Linked DNA regions of Homo sapiens: region 2 is linked to region 1. Evidence: fine-mapped expression QTL. Tissue or cell type: fibroblasts. Region 1 holds a variant in brackets; the other region holds the start of a gene. All regions are shown on one strand. Distances are from middle to middle.

The links. PIP is the estimated chance that this variant, and not a neighbour inherited with it, causes the effect.
Region 2: it holds the start of EPHX2, and the variant in region 1 is fine-mapped to the expression of EPHX2 in fibroblasts (GTEx, PIP 0.93).

The regions. Positions count from the first base shown.
Region 1 is chr8:27,898,881-27,906,983 of GRCh38, reverse strand. SCARA5 (scavenger receptor class A member 5) reads left to right here. Exons shown (of 9, transcript NM_173833.6): 7 at 2,150-2,206. LOC105379342 (a long non-coding RNA gene) reads right to left here and starts at 4,311. Exons shown (of 2, transcript NR_188147.1): 1 at 4,060-4,311. The variant A/G (reference allele first, on the strand shown) is at 4,170.
Region 2 is chr8:27,486,420-27,494,522 of GRCh38, reverse strand. EPHX2 (epoxide hydrolase 2) reads right to left here and starts at 3,380. Exons shown (of 19, transcript NM_001979.6): 1 at 3,214-3,380. The coding sequence starts at 3,314. RefSeq lists a silencer at 3,297-3,576 and a cis regulatory region at 5,323-5,637.

The sequences.
Region 1 (8,103 bases):
AACTAGAAACCCTCAGCCAGGTGTGGTGACTCATGTCTGTAGTTCCAGCATTTTGAGAGGACCAGGCAGGTGGATTGCTTGAGCCCAAGAGCCCCATCTCTACAAAATATAAAATAATTAGCCAAGTGTGGTGGCACTTATCTGTAGTCCCAGCTACTTGGGAGGATGAGTGGGAAGGATCTCCTGAGTCCAGGAGTTGGAGGCTATAGTGAGCTATGATTGTGCCACCACCCTGGGTGACAGAGCAAGAGCTCATCTCTAAAACAAAATAAAACACACACACAAAAATCTAGAAATCCTCATGATACTATATCTCACAGGGCTGTCAGGAGGAGTGAGCAAGCACGTATGTGTGCAAATGCTAAAGTCCCTGTAGAAATGCAAGGGAGTGTTATGGTAGGTTGCAGCCCAGAGATGTAACCAGAGAAAGCCAACAAGGGGCCTGCAGGGCAGACACCAGGGCTGCAGGCCCAGGACAGCCCTCCTCCCTAGTCCTGCCAGACTCCTGACCTTCTATATACTCTTTTATTCCCCCAGGATTTACAATTTTAATTCAATTCTCAGATTTACAGTGCCAAAAATGTTCCTTCTGATTTGCTCTTCTTCCTGTAGGCAGTCCCCTTGTTTACGTTAGGGGAACCTACTTTTACAGTCAGTCTGTCTTTTCATGCTCGCTTCAAGATTGTCTAAGCCTCGTAGCATCACTGCGGAAGACAAGGACATCTGATGCTCTTTCCCCAGGCTTTCTACTCCTCACTTGTTAAAATGAAAACTAAGAAAAAAGTACTGCTAATCATTCCCACTCCATGTCTAGGGTGATCTCTTGATCTTAGATCACTGAGAAATTTTATTTTACTTTCTGGTCAGTGATGAAACAGGCTGAGGTTTTCCTTCCTTTTATGATCCCATTTTAAAAAGTTGATTTTAAAACAGATTGTAAAAGCAGCACATGCTTGTTGAAAATAAAATTAGAGACTGGGCAAGGTGGCTCATGCCTGTAATCCTAGCGCTTTGGGAGGCCAAGGCAGGCAGATCACTTGAGGCCAGGAGTTCAAGACCAGCCTGGCCAATATGGCAAAACCCCATCTCTACCAAAAATACAAAACTTAGCCAGGCATGTTGGGGCACACCTGTGATCCCAGCTACTTGGGAAGCTGAGGCAGGAGAATCACTTGAACCCGGGGAGTGGAAGTTGCAGTGAGCTAAGATTGCACCACTGCACTCCCGCCTGGGCCTGGGTGACAGAGTGAGACCCTGTCTCAAAAAAAAAAAAAAAAAGAAAAGAAAAGAAAATTAGACAACACAGAAGTGCATAAAGCAAAAAGTCTCCACCCCTCAGTTCCCCCAGCTCTTATTCTTTAGAATAACTACTGTCAATGCTTTGGAGCACACCCTGCCAGATCTTTTTCTGAGCATATTCCTATATATGTATATGGCTGCCTTTTTTTTTTCCCCCCCCCAAATCTTGGATCATCCTGGGCATTCTCCCCTGGAATTTGCTGGCTTGATTTTTTCACCAGACAGCATGCCCATGGGCTTTTGATTGGCAGATGTCTTTCTGGGGGTCCTTGGAATAGAAGTCCCTTGTCATTTTAATGTCCAGTGAGTGGTGCCAGGATTTTCTACTTCTTTGTAGAGGGAGATGCCAGCTGGCCAAACAGGTCTTCTTTAGCCATATCCTGGGAAGGAAATGCCACAATTCCCTGGTATCTCACACTTATGTTTTATGGTCTCTCCCACAAGAAAACCTGCTCAACATAGAACCCGCCTCTCCCCCTATTTAACTAAAGCCCCCTCTCCTTTGTTTTCCCCTGGGCTCATTAGAACAAACTTGGATGTGGACCTCTAAAACCTTGAGTGTTTAATAGGACTATCTTTGACTTGTCTTCTTCCTGCAAAATTCCATGTGCTCTTTGGTTCTTTACAAACGGGTGGGATTTTCTCACTCATGCCTCCTCCTTCTTGGGGTACCCAGGGCAGATGGCAGAATTGGCTGCCCTCTTCTCCTGCCTGCTGGGCTCTCCAGTTGCTGCTGGCTCCTGCCTGAGGGTTTCTCTGGTCTCGAGTTCATCAATCTCCTGCAGGTAATATTTTATTCACAATTAGGATTTCTTTCCATTTCTAATGCCAGTTTCCTCCTCTGTTTTAGGTGACCGAGGCCCAAAAGGAGAGAAAGGAGAGAAAGGAGACAGAGCTGGGGATGCCAGTAAGGACATTCTGCTGGGGCCGTGGGATATGGTGTTGGCACAGGGCTAGCTGTCCCCCAAGCAGCCCCATAAGTTTGGAGGTTCAGAGGCTGGAGCCATGGCTGGGGCTCAAGTGTCAAAGGAGGCTCCCTACCTTTTTTAGGGCTCTGCTGGTCTAGCAAGAGATGCTGATAGACCCCAGGGGCACTGGCCACATTTCTAGAGGTGTCATAAACCTGGCGGTTGTGTGCATGGATCTGGAGGCTTCCCCCGGTCACTCGCTAGCCCAGCTGGTATAATCTCTGTGCCTCAGTGTTCTCATCTATAAAATAGGGATAACAGGAGTCTTTACCTTATAAGGTCATTGTGAAAATTGAATGAGTTAATCTGTGTAAAGTGCTTATGATCATGCTGGACACCTGGTGAGGACTCAGTACCTGTTTGTGATTATTATTCTGTGTAATACACCCACTCAGACACGCTTCCTAAAATCATCAGAGGTGCTTGCACAAATTCAGCTACTGACCTTGTTAAAGGCCTCCCCTCCCTGGGTGTTACACAGGGAAAGGTGCAGAGACAAAGTGGCATCGCCTTTGTTTTCCCCATTTGCCACTGATGGAGGAGTGACGCTGGAGAGCTTGCGATCCGGCAGACCACCCTGTTAGTAATGGGCATCTTTCTGATGCGGTCCTTGCTAGAATGTTGACAAGGGGATCAGCTTATTTAGTTGTGCCACTCTTCTAAGGTTTACTTTTCCCCTAGAGAGGGCTACATGTAGAATCTTGGAGACTTGCCAGAGAAGAATGAACAGAGTCTCCTAGCCAAGTTTAAAAAGGAGCAAAAGAAAAAACACCAAACCCAGCATGTGGTGTTAGTTGGCTCTGTCCCACGTGAGGGCGCAAGCAGAATATCACTGCCTCTGGCATCTAGGCTCCGGTCTTGGCTCTGGGAGGATGGGGCCTGGGGAAAGAGTCCCTGTGTTAATAGCTTCCCCCCGGACACTCAGGGACAGGGGCCACTGCAGAGTCACAAGCTGGACACAGAAAGGGGTCTCATGACACCCAAATAAATCAAAGACTATCAGCCCCACCAAAATTCAACGCAATACCACAACCTACAGCACCACTAATAATTAGCCATAGGCCTCCATAAATAGGAGAAGGTTTCGAAGAGAAACCTACAAATCCTACAACCAAAAGGACACTTAAAACAAATAGAGCATATGCCATTATTCCCACATGGGCGATAACCATGACTAATGACATGAAAAATTATTGTTGTGCTTCAACTAGAAGAACACTAATGGCCAAGACCTGCAAAACACACCCGCTAATAAAAATTATTAATTACTCATTCATTGATCTTCCCACACCATCTAACATTTCTATATGATGAAACTTTGGCTCACTTCTTGGTGCCTGCCTAATCCTCCAGATCATTACACGATTACTCTTGGCCATGCAGTACACATCAGACACTTCAACTGCCTTCTCTTCAGTTGCTCATATCAGCTGAGATGTAAACTACAGCTGAATGGTCTGCTATTTTCATGCTTCCTTGGTCTCACTAGGTCCTTCAGATGAGATCAAGCACACTCAGGATGGTATGGTGCAGTAGGCCCTTCACATCACACTTTAGTCCCAGCTGTGCAGGACCAGAAGGAGACCTCACTCCCAAAAAGAGGCCTCCCCAAGGCCCCCTGACACTTAAACTTGCCCCTGCTTTCTCTCTGCCCTGCCCTCCCCTCCCTGAGGCATGATTCAGGATCAAATAGGAGCAAGGCAGGTGACAGCACCTTGTCCTTGAAAGTGATGGACTTGCCCGTAGAAAAACAAGGAAATGCCCAGGCTGATCCTGGACCCCCCACACTCACCTCACCTGAAGTGCTAAAGTCCACAAGGCCATCTGCGAGCTTCACAGTACTTCTAGCATTCTCTAGAGTCCCTTTCCAGGGCTGCTTAACTGGGTGTGTCTGACTGAATG[A/G]GGCCATCTAGTAGACCTGATCTGATCCCTTTTGTCTAAAGGGCTGGGTCCTGAATGCTGTCTTCGGGGTGCTGTTTTTCCCTGCTCTGTTTGTTGACTGGTTTCTGACAGAATGCTGCCAAGGTAGCTGAGAAGGATCGTGGCATTTAGTTCTGAGAAATAAACAACTCCTGATGGGGGTGGGCAGGAAGGGAGGAACTATGTGGAAAGATGGCTTTGAGATCAGAAACACTGCCCGCATGCCAGAGGGGCTCTTGTTGGGAATTCTCTGGTGGCTCTTCTTTCAGCAGACTTGAGAGAGCAAGTGAGGAGGTCGAGCCAGCAGGGCGTTCCCCATGCTGTGGAGGATGCGTGGTCTCTATTCACCTTGCTCCTGTGGGCCAGGCTGGTGGGCTCTGTACTGGGGTTGGGCCCTGAGGCCAGAGCTACGGTGCAGGGAGGTGAGAGCCAGAGCCACAGGGGTGCGGGGCTCCCTGGGGATGGGTGGGGAGGCGTGGGGGGAGGCCACCCCCTCCACTTGGCCCTGGAGCCTCTTGACTGTACAGCAAGAGGTGACATCAGCTCTGGACAGCCTCCCCTCAGGGACTGAGGCTTTCTTTCCTGCCTCGAAGAGCTACACCCTCATTGCAGCCCAGAACTCAGACAGAACCCAGAGCCTAAGCTTGCACAAAGCGCTGAACTTTTCTTTCCTGCCCTCTGACAAGACCCCCACCCCCAGTAGTCTCCAGAGGCAGTGAAATTGGGAGGTGAAGGGGCTGAGCAGAGACAGCTCCATGAACAGGAAGCTCTACACAACATGAGGAGGACTCTGGGAGACCCAGAGGAATCGTAGAACAAAGAAACTGGGAGGCCAGCCTCCATCTCCCCATTTTCAGAGGCCCATAGGGGAGGACGGACTTCCTCACGTCCTTAGGCCAGGGCTGAGGCTGAACAAAATCCCCAGCCGCTGACTTCCTGACCCTGGGATGGGGGCTTCGGCCCCTGGTCTTGGGTAGTAGGGCCGGGCTCCTTAAAACCCCAAGTAATCCCCTCTTTCACTGGTAGCTCCAGATGCAGATGTAAGGACCTTGGGGCTGGAGGGGAATAGTTGTCACGATTCAGGGCTGAGGTCTGTGCCTGTCCCATTGCGGGGTGTCTTCCCACAGCCTCTGCCCACCAGCTTGCTCTGACCACAACAACATCAAGCTGTATTCAGCCTCCTGCTTATGTTTCCAGGGAATTCCAGTCCCAGAAGCATTAACCATATCCCTGAGACCCGGGCTCTGTGGGGGAGAGCCAAGGCTCAGCTTTCAGAAAAGTGTGGAAATTCTGACAGACATGGTGCCCATGTCTGAGGGTTTCTTAGTCATTCCCTGCGCCCTGGGAAGCCCCACCGTAGGATCTACGGGGTGGGAAAAAAGCGTTTGCAGCACCGGAGAGCTACCCTCCTCCACAAGCCAACATCGTGCGGGAAGAGCCGCTAACCAGGGTGGCCTCTGCTAACCCCGAGGCCTTTCAACCTTCCCAAACACCTCTGAAGCCCGTGCCGTTAGCAGCAAAGACCTGAAGTTCCAGCAGATGGGGATGTAACTGTGCAAAAGGGACTGGTGAGAAAACATGACCGACACCCCTCACTAGGGACGTGGAAGTTGGGGGTTTTCCCTGGAGGAGGGCATGCCACAGAAGGCTTCTCAGGACCCATCTGAGTCCACATTAAAATATTTTTCAGAACAAAAATCTTGCCATTGTTTACCCATGTTTTGATCTGAAGTCATAGGATTTTAGGGTTGGATGGGTTTCAGACCCATTCCTCTCTCTCGCCCAACCCCACCCCACCAGTTTTCAGAACAGAGACCAACAACAGAGAGATGAGAGGAATCCCCAAAATCACCCAGCCTAGGTCACGGCCAAATTGGGTCTAGAATCCAGATGTCCCGATTTCTGCTTGCTGAGAGATAAAGGTTTTTTTCAGTCAAGGGCAATATCAGTCATTCCGTGACATGTTTGGCTTTTGGGAGTTTGGCCAGGAAAAAAAAAAAAAAAAAACCCGCTACGTATACATATCTCAAGAGAGAAATACATTTGTTTTACCCTAGTAGATGGTCCATTTGCAGGAAAAATAAATAGTGTTTTTGCAACTAAGGGGTGGGTGAAGAATTCAGGTTTTTTTTAAGTCCCACAGCATGAATTTAAAGCAGGATATAAGTTCAGATTGTTTAAAAAATCTTTCTCAATTTGGTTTCATATGGAAAAAAAATATGCAGATGACACCAGGGTGAATTCTAAACCAGAGTTTGTTGATGGTTATCATTCATGGCTTAGAGCACTTGAAAAATGTTTAACACTTCGTACATGTTTTCAGTATTTAGGGAAGTAAGTCTGGGGACGAGGGGAGCTGTGGGCACCCCAGCATGCAGTGTAAACTCAGAATAAATAATCAGAGGAGGAAGTTTCTAAACAGTTTTCCCTGCAGCTGCTGAGATGTTTCTGTCTCTGTTTTACAGTCAAGGAGGCAGAATCCTTTGGAGTCCTCGGACTCCCTTCTCCCATCCCTGTGCCTAGACTTTGCTGTACCAGGTGCCCGGGAGAATCTGTTTAGGATAATGGAGCACCAAAAGTTAGCCTTATCTCAGGCATGGAGAGACACAGCGACTGCACCTTTTTTTGTTTGTTTTTTGTTTTTTTGGTTTTTTTTTTTTAGATGGAGTCTTGCTCTGTCACCCAGGCTGGAGTGCAGTGGCACGATCTCGGCTCACTGCAACCTCCGCCTCCTGGGTTCAAGTGACTCTCCTGCCTCAGCCTCCAGAGTAGCTGGGATTACAGGTGCATGCCATCATGCCCAGCTAATTTGTGTATTTTTAGTAGAAATGGGTTTTTACCATGTTGGCCAAGCTGGTCTTGAACTCCTGACCTCAGGTGATCTGCCTGCCTCGGCCTCTCAAAGTACTGGGATTACAGGCATGAGCCACCGTGCCAGCTGACCCAAGTCTTAAAGAGTAAGTTCATGTCCACCAGGTGGATGTGGAAGTTGAATGTGTCCCAGGTAAAGAGAACCATGCTTGAAACAGCATAATGTTGTCTGATCCTCCCAAATAGTACAGCATGGCAAGGGTTTGGGATGTAAGAGACAAAAAATAAGCCTGGAAAGGAAGGTGGGGATAACCAAGGGCATTGCAGTGGTCAGGAGTTTAGGCTTGAGCCTCTGGGCACTAGGAAGCCATCCATAGGATTGTAATGGCGGAGCCTTGGCTGTCCCTGGTGGCCCTTTGCACATGACCAATGCCTCGTGCGTGGTAGACAGACCCTTCCTCTCGGGAAAGGCCACGTTCCAAATCCAAGTTTCTCTTCTGCTCCTGCTCCTTCTCTTGTCTGCACTTCCACTTTGAGAAAATCCTGTTTTTCAGAAACATTTCCTGAGAAGATGCGACCCCAACTCTATGCAGTTCTGTAGGAGCAGAGCTGGTGTGGAGCAATGAAAATGAAGATTCATTTCCCCTGCTCACTCCCACACTGGTGACCCCAACTGTGCAGGTGTTTTGCACATTGACCAATGCCCCAACCCCAGCTGGGTGTCCCACTATTCAATTCCATTCTGACATAATCAACCTGGAGTTAGTGAAGACCCCACAGGGTAAGGGCTCAGTCCCACAGGCTGCCCCTGACTTCAGATGAAATCTCAAATCCAAGCTTCCAGAACATATAAGCAACTGGCTGAAAGTCAGAGATTCCCTTTAGACCCCCTCCGTGGGTTTGATTATTTGCTAGAACCCAACTCACAGAACTCAGGAAAAGTTAGGTTCATCAGTTTATTATAAAGGACACAACTCGGGAACAGAGGGATGGGAGAGATGCAGAGGGCCAGGTATGGGGATGGGGTGCAGAGCTTCCCTGCCCTCTCTGGGCACGCCGCCCGCCAGGTACCTCGATGTGTTCTGTGTTCAGCACTGCACCTCTC
Region 2 (8,103 bases), 410 kb after region 1:
GGATGAAGCCTTGTCCTGCAAGACAGAGAAGGCTCAAGAAGTGGTTAAAGTCCTAATTCATGAAGTAATTCCTAGATTTGGGCTTCCCCAAAGCTTACAAAGTGACAATGGTCTGGCTTTTAAAGCCATGGTAACTCAGGGAGTTTCCAGGGCACTAGAGATACAATATCACCTTCACTGTGCCTGGAGGCCACAATCCTCAGGAAAAGCCCATACAAGACCTTGTGACCACGAATACCGAATACCATCTTAACTTTCCAAGCCCTTTTATGCATCCAACACAACCTGTTATCAGGCCTGCCCCTGGGGCACCTACTATCCCATCAGTGTAATTACACCCTATAACTTCAAGCCCCAACTGATCATAGTAACTCCTGAGTCACCCAAACACCTCCATTCAGATGGCTTGTCTGCTTCTCAGGGCCCCCCAAAATCATCACCTCCTCCCTGTTTAACAAACAGTCTGGGTTTTGTAATGGCAAACATACTCCCTGCATGACCATTCACCCCTGGACCCCCTGCAGCAGCGCCCCCACCACTAGTGTATGTCTTCTTATCCCCTCTTTCAATTACTCTCTTGGATGGTTCCTAGTAGATACAAAACGGTTTTTTCTCCAATGGGAAAATAGAGCACAGGGAGCCACTCAGTCTGCTCCCAACACCCTTTCCAGCTGCTCACCAGAGCTACCTTGGCAAGTACTCTAGGAGTGTGGGAAAATGAAAACAAACTCACACACCTTTTTAACATACACAACCAGTTTATTCTACCCAGCCAAGGCATATTCTTCTTATGTGGAACTTCAACCTATATCTGCCTCCCACCAGCTGGACAGGCACCTGCACCTTCTCCTAAGTCCCAACACTAACAATGCCACAGGAAATCAGACCCTATCAGTGCCCCTCAAAGCTCAAGTCTGTCAGCCCAGGACCATACAACTAATACCCCTACTTATAGGGCTAGGAATGCCCACTGCTACAGGAACCAGAATAGCCAGTTTAACTACTTCATTATCCTACTACCATACACTCTCAAAGGATTTCTCAGACAGTTTGCAATAAATAAATCTATCCTTACTCTACAATCCCAAATAGACTATTTGGCAACAGTGACTCTCCAAAACCGCTAAGGTCTAGACCTCCTCACTGCTGAGAAAGGAGGACTTTGCACCTTCTTAGGGGAGGAGTGTTGTTTTTAAACTAACCAGTCAGGGATAGTACAGGATGCTGCCTGGCATTTACAGGAAAAGGCTTCTGAAACCAGACAACACCTTTCAAATTCTTATACCAACCTCTGGAGTTGGGTGACTTGGCTTCTCCCCTTTCTAGGTCCCGTGACAGCCATCTTGCTATTACTCACCTTCAGTCCCTGTATTTTTAACCTCCTCCTCAAATTTGTTTCCTCCAGGATCAAGGCCATCAAGCTACAGATGGTCTTACAAATGGAACCCCAAATGAGCTTAACTCACAACTTCTACCGAGGACTGCTAGACTGACCCACTGGCCCTTTGACTGGCCTAGAGAGTTCCCCTCTGGAGGACACTACAACGGCAGGGCCCCTTCTTTGCCCCTATCCAGCAGGAAGTAGCTAGAGTGGTCATCACCCAGTTCCCAGTAGCAGGTGGGGTGTCCTGTTATGAGGGAGGATTGAGAGGTGAGGCCAGCTGGACTTCCTAGGTCGAGTGGGGACTTGGGGAACTTTCCTGTCTTACAAGAGAATTGTAAAATGCACCAATCAGCGCTCTGTAAAACGCACAATCAGCAGCATTCTAAAAGTAGCCAATCACGGGGAGGATTGAAAAAAGGGCACTCTGATAGGACAGAAATGGAACATGGGAGAGGACAATAAGGGAATAAAAGCTGGCCACCCCAGCCAGTAGCGGCAACCTGCTGGGGTCCCCTTCCATGCTGTGGAAGCTTTGTGCTTTCGCTGTTCACGATAAACCTTGCTATCACTCACTCTTTGGGTCTGCGCCATCTTTACGAGTGTAACACTCACTGCGAAGGTCCACAGCTCCATTCTTGAAGTCAGCAAGACCACGAACCCACCGACAGGAACCAACTCTGGACACAACTATAGCCTCCAACTCCTGGGCTCAGGCAATCCTTCTGCCTTAGCCTCCCAAGTAGCTGGGGCTACATGCATGCACTAATGTCTAGCTAATTTTATTTTTATTTTTGGAGAGACAGGGTCTTGCTCTTTCACCCAGGCTGGTCTTGAACTCTCAGCCTCAAGTGATCCTCCCACCTTAGCTTCCCAAAGCACAGAGATTACATGCCTTTCCCTCAAGCTACTTGCCATCTCATCTTCCTTACTATATTAAAAGCAAAGGCTCCGGACATGGACTACTGGGGTTGGATTTCTGGCTCTGCTCTTTAACAGCTATGTGATTTGGACAGCTGGTTTCTTTCTGTGCCTCAGTTTCCTCATATGTAAAAGGAGGATATGAACAATGGCTTCCATGCCTGGCCTTCTTTTTCACTTTATAAATAAGTATACTTCTCTCCTTTCTGAATGTGGGAATAATACATTGTTTATAAATTTAGAAGTTGGAAACTACAAAAAAAAAAAACACAAAAAAAAGAGAGAGAGAAAGAAAATCATTACATTATTCCTAATCTCATTTGATGTACTTTGGCCTATTTCTTTCAGGCACTTTTCTGCATGTACCTTTTTTCCATAGCTGAAACCATATTGTATAAATAGCTTCAGATTCTGGTGGGGTGGTTTTTTCATGTAGTAGAACAGGTGTTTTCCCAAGTCCCTGAGCTCTCACTCTGCACACCCCATCTACCATTTCCCAGTGATGTGGCTTTGGGCGGTTGCTGCAGTTTGCTATTACACAAGTAAGCATGCAACCCACACCTGGGGAGAGAACTTTCTTCTCTCCTGAATCTCGGCTCGCATCTTTAAGCGCCACCCCATTAGACAGGAGGCAGCAGAAGCACAAAGCTCCATGAGTAACTCCTCTCCCTTTTGGAAAAGTTCACAGAAAGCAATTTTGGAGACCTTGGCAACGTTTAATTATGAACATTTAGAAAGACAACGGATCTCCTCATATGCACTGGGACTTCAGGGCCAGGTCTTCAGTTTCATGATTCGCATGATTCGCAGGGCTCCGGCACAGGAGCAATCTGAAAGCTGGGCTGCAAGCCCAGCGCGGTCTGCCTCCTGAGGCCCCGACCCACTGCGGCGGCGGCGCTGGGCCCCCTTACCTGGGCAGCGCCAGGGCCTCCTCCGTGCGGCCGAGGACGCCGAACACCGCTGGCAGCGCCAGCACCCCGTCAAGGTCGAAGACGGCCGCGCGCAGCGTCATGGCGGCGGGTCTGCAGCCTAGCACCCGGACACGCAGCTAACCTGGGAGATGCGCGAAGGCCAGGGCGCATGACCCGCCCAGCTTGGCCCGGCTCTGCCCCGCCCCTGCCCTGGCCCCGCCTCCTCCCCACACCCCCTTAACGGGACTCCGCCCTCTGCCCGGGTTAAGGCTGGACTCTGGCCGGGAAAGAGGCAGGGGGAGGGGCACAGGAAAGGGAGTCAGAGGGAGAGGAAGAGGAGGCCGGGAAGGCGGGGACCCCAGGCTAGAATCTCGCCTCTGGATGTAACGCTTTCTACTGTCTCAAAGGAAAGTCCAAAGTCTCTTATGCCCCCTCCCCACGCCCCTGCAGTAGCTGCTTGAAGAGGCAAACCCAGGCCCGGGCCTTCCTGGACGGACTGACAGCTCCCTGCGAACTTGCTGGACTTGGAATGCCTGGGAAAGAGGCCACAGACTCTGTGTGTGTGTGTGTGTGTGTGTGTGTGTGTGTGTGTGTGTGTGTGTGTGTGTGTCAGCACATCCAGTGACTTCTACATTCAGAACATAAGACCGTGTTGGGGGGCGGGGGAGGGGCATATCCAGTGACTTTTCTAGATTCAGAACGAAGGATCACAGATCCCTCACTATCCTGACCACTCCTCTAGGCACGCTCTTCTTTGCCAAGGCAAATGTGTTTCTAGAATAAAATATGATGTTCCAGCTATCGTGTGCCAGCCCAGAATACTTCGATTTCAATCTCTTGTGGAATGAAGCTTAGAAGAACTAAATGTAGGCTATTATTTTCCTTTTGTACATGCTACTTGTAATAATTCTGTCTTAAAATGTGCGAGGTTTGTTTTTAATCACCGATTTCCACACTATTGGCTCGTTTATGTTCCTAGAAAAACTAAAACTTTGGCTGGGAGTTCTTGAGCTGTTGTAGTGCAGCTCCATGAATTAAAAACCGTGTCTTTGGTGGAGACCAAACAGAGTGAGTGAGGTCTCCAACAGTGGAGAATTTACTCTTGAATGTGTCTCTGTGGATTTATCCAAGATACCCTCCACCACGGAGCTTCAAGAACCTTGTGAGGGGTTGTCAGATACCTCACTGTAACTGGGAGGTCTACAACAGTCTCTGGATCTAGCAATCAACAACAGGATTGACCAGAGCCGTGGGTTTCCTCTGGGCTGTTTGCCCTTAGCAAGCTATGCTGTTGCTTCCTTCTCTAGCTTGGTAACCTCTTCCAGGCTCCTGCCTGGAGCAGTTATTAGTGTTTTCTGAGATTCTTGCCAAAGAAGCAGAGAGTGGCCAACACTGCCAAATGTTACAGGAAGAACTGAAAAAAAAGCTGTCCAATTTTGGACTTGGATGACACCGGATGTTTCAGAACACTTTTTGTGGGCCCTTTATGGTAGAAACTGGATTACTCTGGATTTGAAGACTGAAAGATAGGCAGAGAAGGGAGTACAGCAAGCTAGTTTCTCATGAAGTTAGTTGATCTCAAAGGTATAATTGAATTTTAAAAAATAGAAAGAAAATTGCAGCCTGACCTATATAGTATGAAACCTGTTAAATCTCCAGATTGGGCATGGTGGCACACACCTGTAATCCCAGCACTTTGGGGCTGAGGTGGGAGAATTGCTTGAGGCCAGGAGTTTGAGACAAGCCTGGGCAACAAAGCAAGACATTCTCTCTATAAAAAATAAAAATAAAATATTAGCTAGGCATGGTGGTGCATGCCAGTAGTCTCTGCTATTCAGGAGGCTGAGGTGGGACGATCACTTTAGCCCAGGAAGTGGAGGCTGCAGTGAGCCATGATTGTGCCACTGCACTCCATCCAGCCTGGGTGACACAGCAAGACTCTACCTCCAAAAAAAAAAAAGAAAGAAATTAAATCTCCAACTTAGAGTTTCCTTTGGGCTCCAGACTTGCCAACTTCTTACTCAACATCTTACTCAACGTCAATATCCAACTTCTTACTGAACATCTTCTCTTGAGTGTCTAACAGGCATCTCAAATTTATCATGGCTAAAACAGAACTCTCTCTGCATTTCTACTTCCCACGCCTGTTCCTCCTAGTGTGTTCCCTATCTTACAAACTGGCATCCCCATTGACTCAGTGGCTCAGTCCCGAGACCACGGAGTTGCTTCCAGATCCTTGGCTCCCAGCCAAACCATATGTTCGTGTTTCTAGCGGTGGCCTGCTGATTGAGGCAGAGATAGCAGCTTCTAGTTCTATGGTGGTGTTTTCTGGGAGTCCTTCCTAAAGGCTCAGTCTGGAGCTCACTCCTCCATTCCGTTCAAAGATTGTGTAGGCTTGCAGTCTCTCATCTTAAATCCCTTTCTTCTGTTTCTATTTAAAATAACTACAGTGATTTCTGTTGCCTGCATCTGAATTCTGCATCTAGCACAGTATTGCTTATGAATACGTAAGTATATTTATACAAGCAGTAAAGTGTAGAGGAACGACATACCTACAGAACTAGATTTCATAAAGCCCCCTTTTGAGAAGAAAAATTTAAAAACATAGAAATATGAGTTTTACTTTCCTCTTTGGTTAAGAGAAAGCCATGAAGCTATCACATGGACTTTTATTTATTCAGGAGCAGTTAACTTGTAAATAGCTCTGGTGTGGAATATTTTTATAATGCCTTGTGAGTTACAGAGCTTTCTGGCTGAATTGCTTAGGCAAAGATTAAAGGTCTCAATTGCATTTCACTGCACTTTGCCCTTTTTCATGGTCGTGCTTCTCCTGTGTTTTCTGCTACTAAGGTACAGAGAGATAAGGGCTTACCCAGCAGGGCTATGGGAACTGGGTGGCTTTTTGAAATGTAAATCCTAACCCCTATGTCTTCTAATTTTAATATTTATGAAATATGTTTTAGGTGATAGCATGAATCATAAAAGATGGCTAATGTAGTAGTGAAAATTTATAAATTACACCTGATTTCAATCACTAAATTCATAATGAATGTACACTGACCTCATTAAGGTTTATTTTGGGTTTTCTGCCATTCCTGTGCCTTCTGCAACTTCCTGCTAGTCCTTGATTGTCAAACCCTATTTTATAAAATCTGTTTAACCACTAGGGGTTGGGAGGGAGGACTTTACACTGCTGCTTCTCTCTACTGTAGATACTCATGGAGTTCAAAGTAAAGCTACCTCTGGCAGTTTTCTAAACCTACAAACCACTTGAAGTTTTGTCTTTTTTTCAATGCGGCAAATGAACGAGCGTCTTTCATTCCATCAGCAAATATGTATCAAGCATCTTCTATGTGCCAGGCACTGTTCTAGGCACTTGGGATCAATTGTTAAATAAATCAGACAAATATAGGGGCCGTCAAGGATCTTCCATTTTAGTGGAATAATGAATTCAAATGGTAGTGGCTGGTGGCTTCTGGAGCAGTGAGAAGAATGAGATTGGGAATAGTGGTGGTGGCTACTTGCCGTTTTTCTTATTTGTCATTTTCCAGCTTCCTAACATCTATAACCTTTTCTTACATACAGAAAATTCCAGCCGGGCATGGTGGCTCACACCTGTAATCACAGCACTTTGGGAGGCTGAGGTGGGTGGATCACCTGAGGTTAAGAGTTGGAGACCAGCCTGGCCAACATGGGGAAACCCCGTCTCTATTAAAAATACGAAACTTATCTGGGCGTGGTGGCACACACCTGTAATCCCAGCTACTTGGGAAGCTGAAGCAGGAGAATTGCTTGAACCCGGGAGGCAGAGGTTGCAGTAAGCCAAGATCATGCCACTGCACTCGCAGCCTGGGCAACAGAGCAAGACTCTGTCAAAAGAAAGAAAAGAAAAGAGAAGAGAAGAGAAGAGAAAAGAGAAGAGAAGAGAAGAGAAGAGAAGAGAAGAGAAGAGTAGAGTAGAGAAGAAGAGAAAATTCCATCTGGCAGTGATGAAGTTCTGCTTCAGAGATACACAACATCCTTTCAACATCTTCTATTTTGATAGTTCTCACTGTTTGAGAACTACTACTGTTTTGAGTTCTACCTTCTCACAGTAGAATCCACAAACAACATGTTGCCCAGGCTTCCTTAATGCTGGCCAGGTGCACGGGCTCTGCCAATTGGGCATACTCGCCAGGGATTTGGGAATGGGGATGGGCAGCCCAAAGCCACAGCTGTGTGAGCGGGAACTTTCTTTCAGCGAAGGCAGAAGCAGCAGCATCTAGTTTTTCTGGGGAGGCTGTGATGGAGCTTCTCTGGTCTGGTCCTGAGTGTACTTGGTGCCCACGCTGGGGCAGAGTGGTGGCTTTGTTAAAATTGCACCAAGGGGTGGCCTGCGGTCACTGTGCTGTTCTTGGCTATATAGTTTCCAAAGCTGCATCTCTTGTCCTCCCTGAGATTCTGTGTGTTAATGTCCTATAATAAGAACCTTTCTGCTTATATGACCGAGAGGAAGCTCTGTAGTTTGTAATAAAAACCCTATAACGCATACCGGCCTTATGAATGTTGATAGAAGGAAGAACCGCATTGACTGCAGAATTTGGAAATGCCCTGTGCCCACTCCCCAGCCTGCCTGGAAGTGAGAGTGAAGGCCTGTGAGCTCCATTCAGCAACTCAGGTGCACCAACCCAGCCCTTACAGTGGGAGCAGGTGAAGGAAACAGGCCAGAGGAGAAGGGTGTCGGTCGGCAGTTTCAAGGGCAGCAGCAGCAGCGGCCAGGGTCCCTGGCTGGCAGGGACGGTGCAGGCCCCGAGGCCCTCAGCGCCCAACTGCAGCAGTGGTGTCTTCACAAGTCCAGTTCTGTGCTATGAGTTTGGCAATGACCTTGCTCTTGTTTTCCAGGCTTAGTTC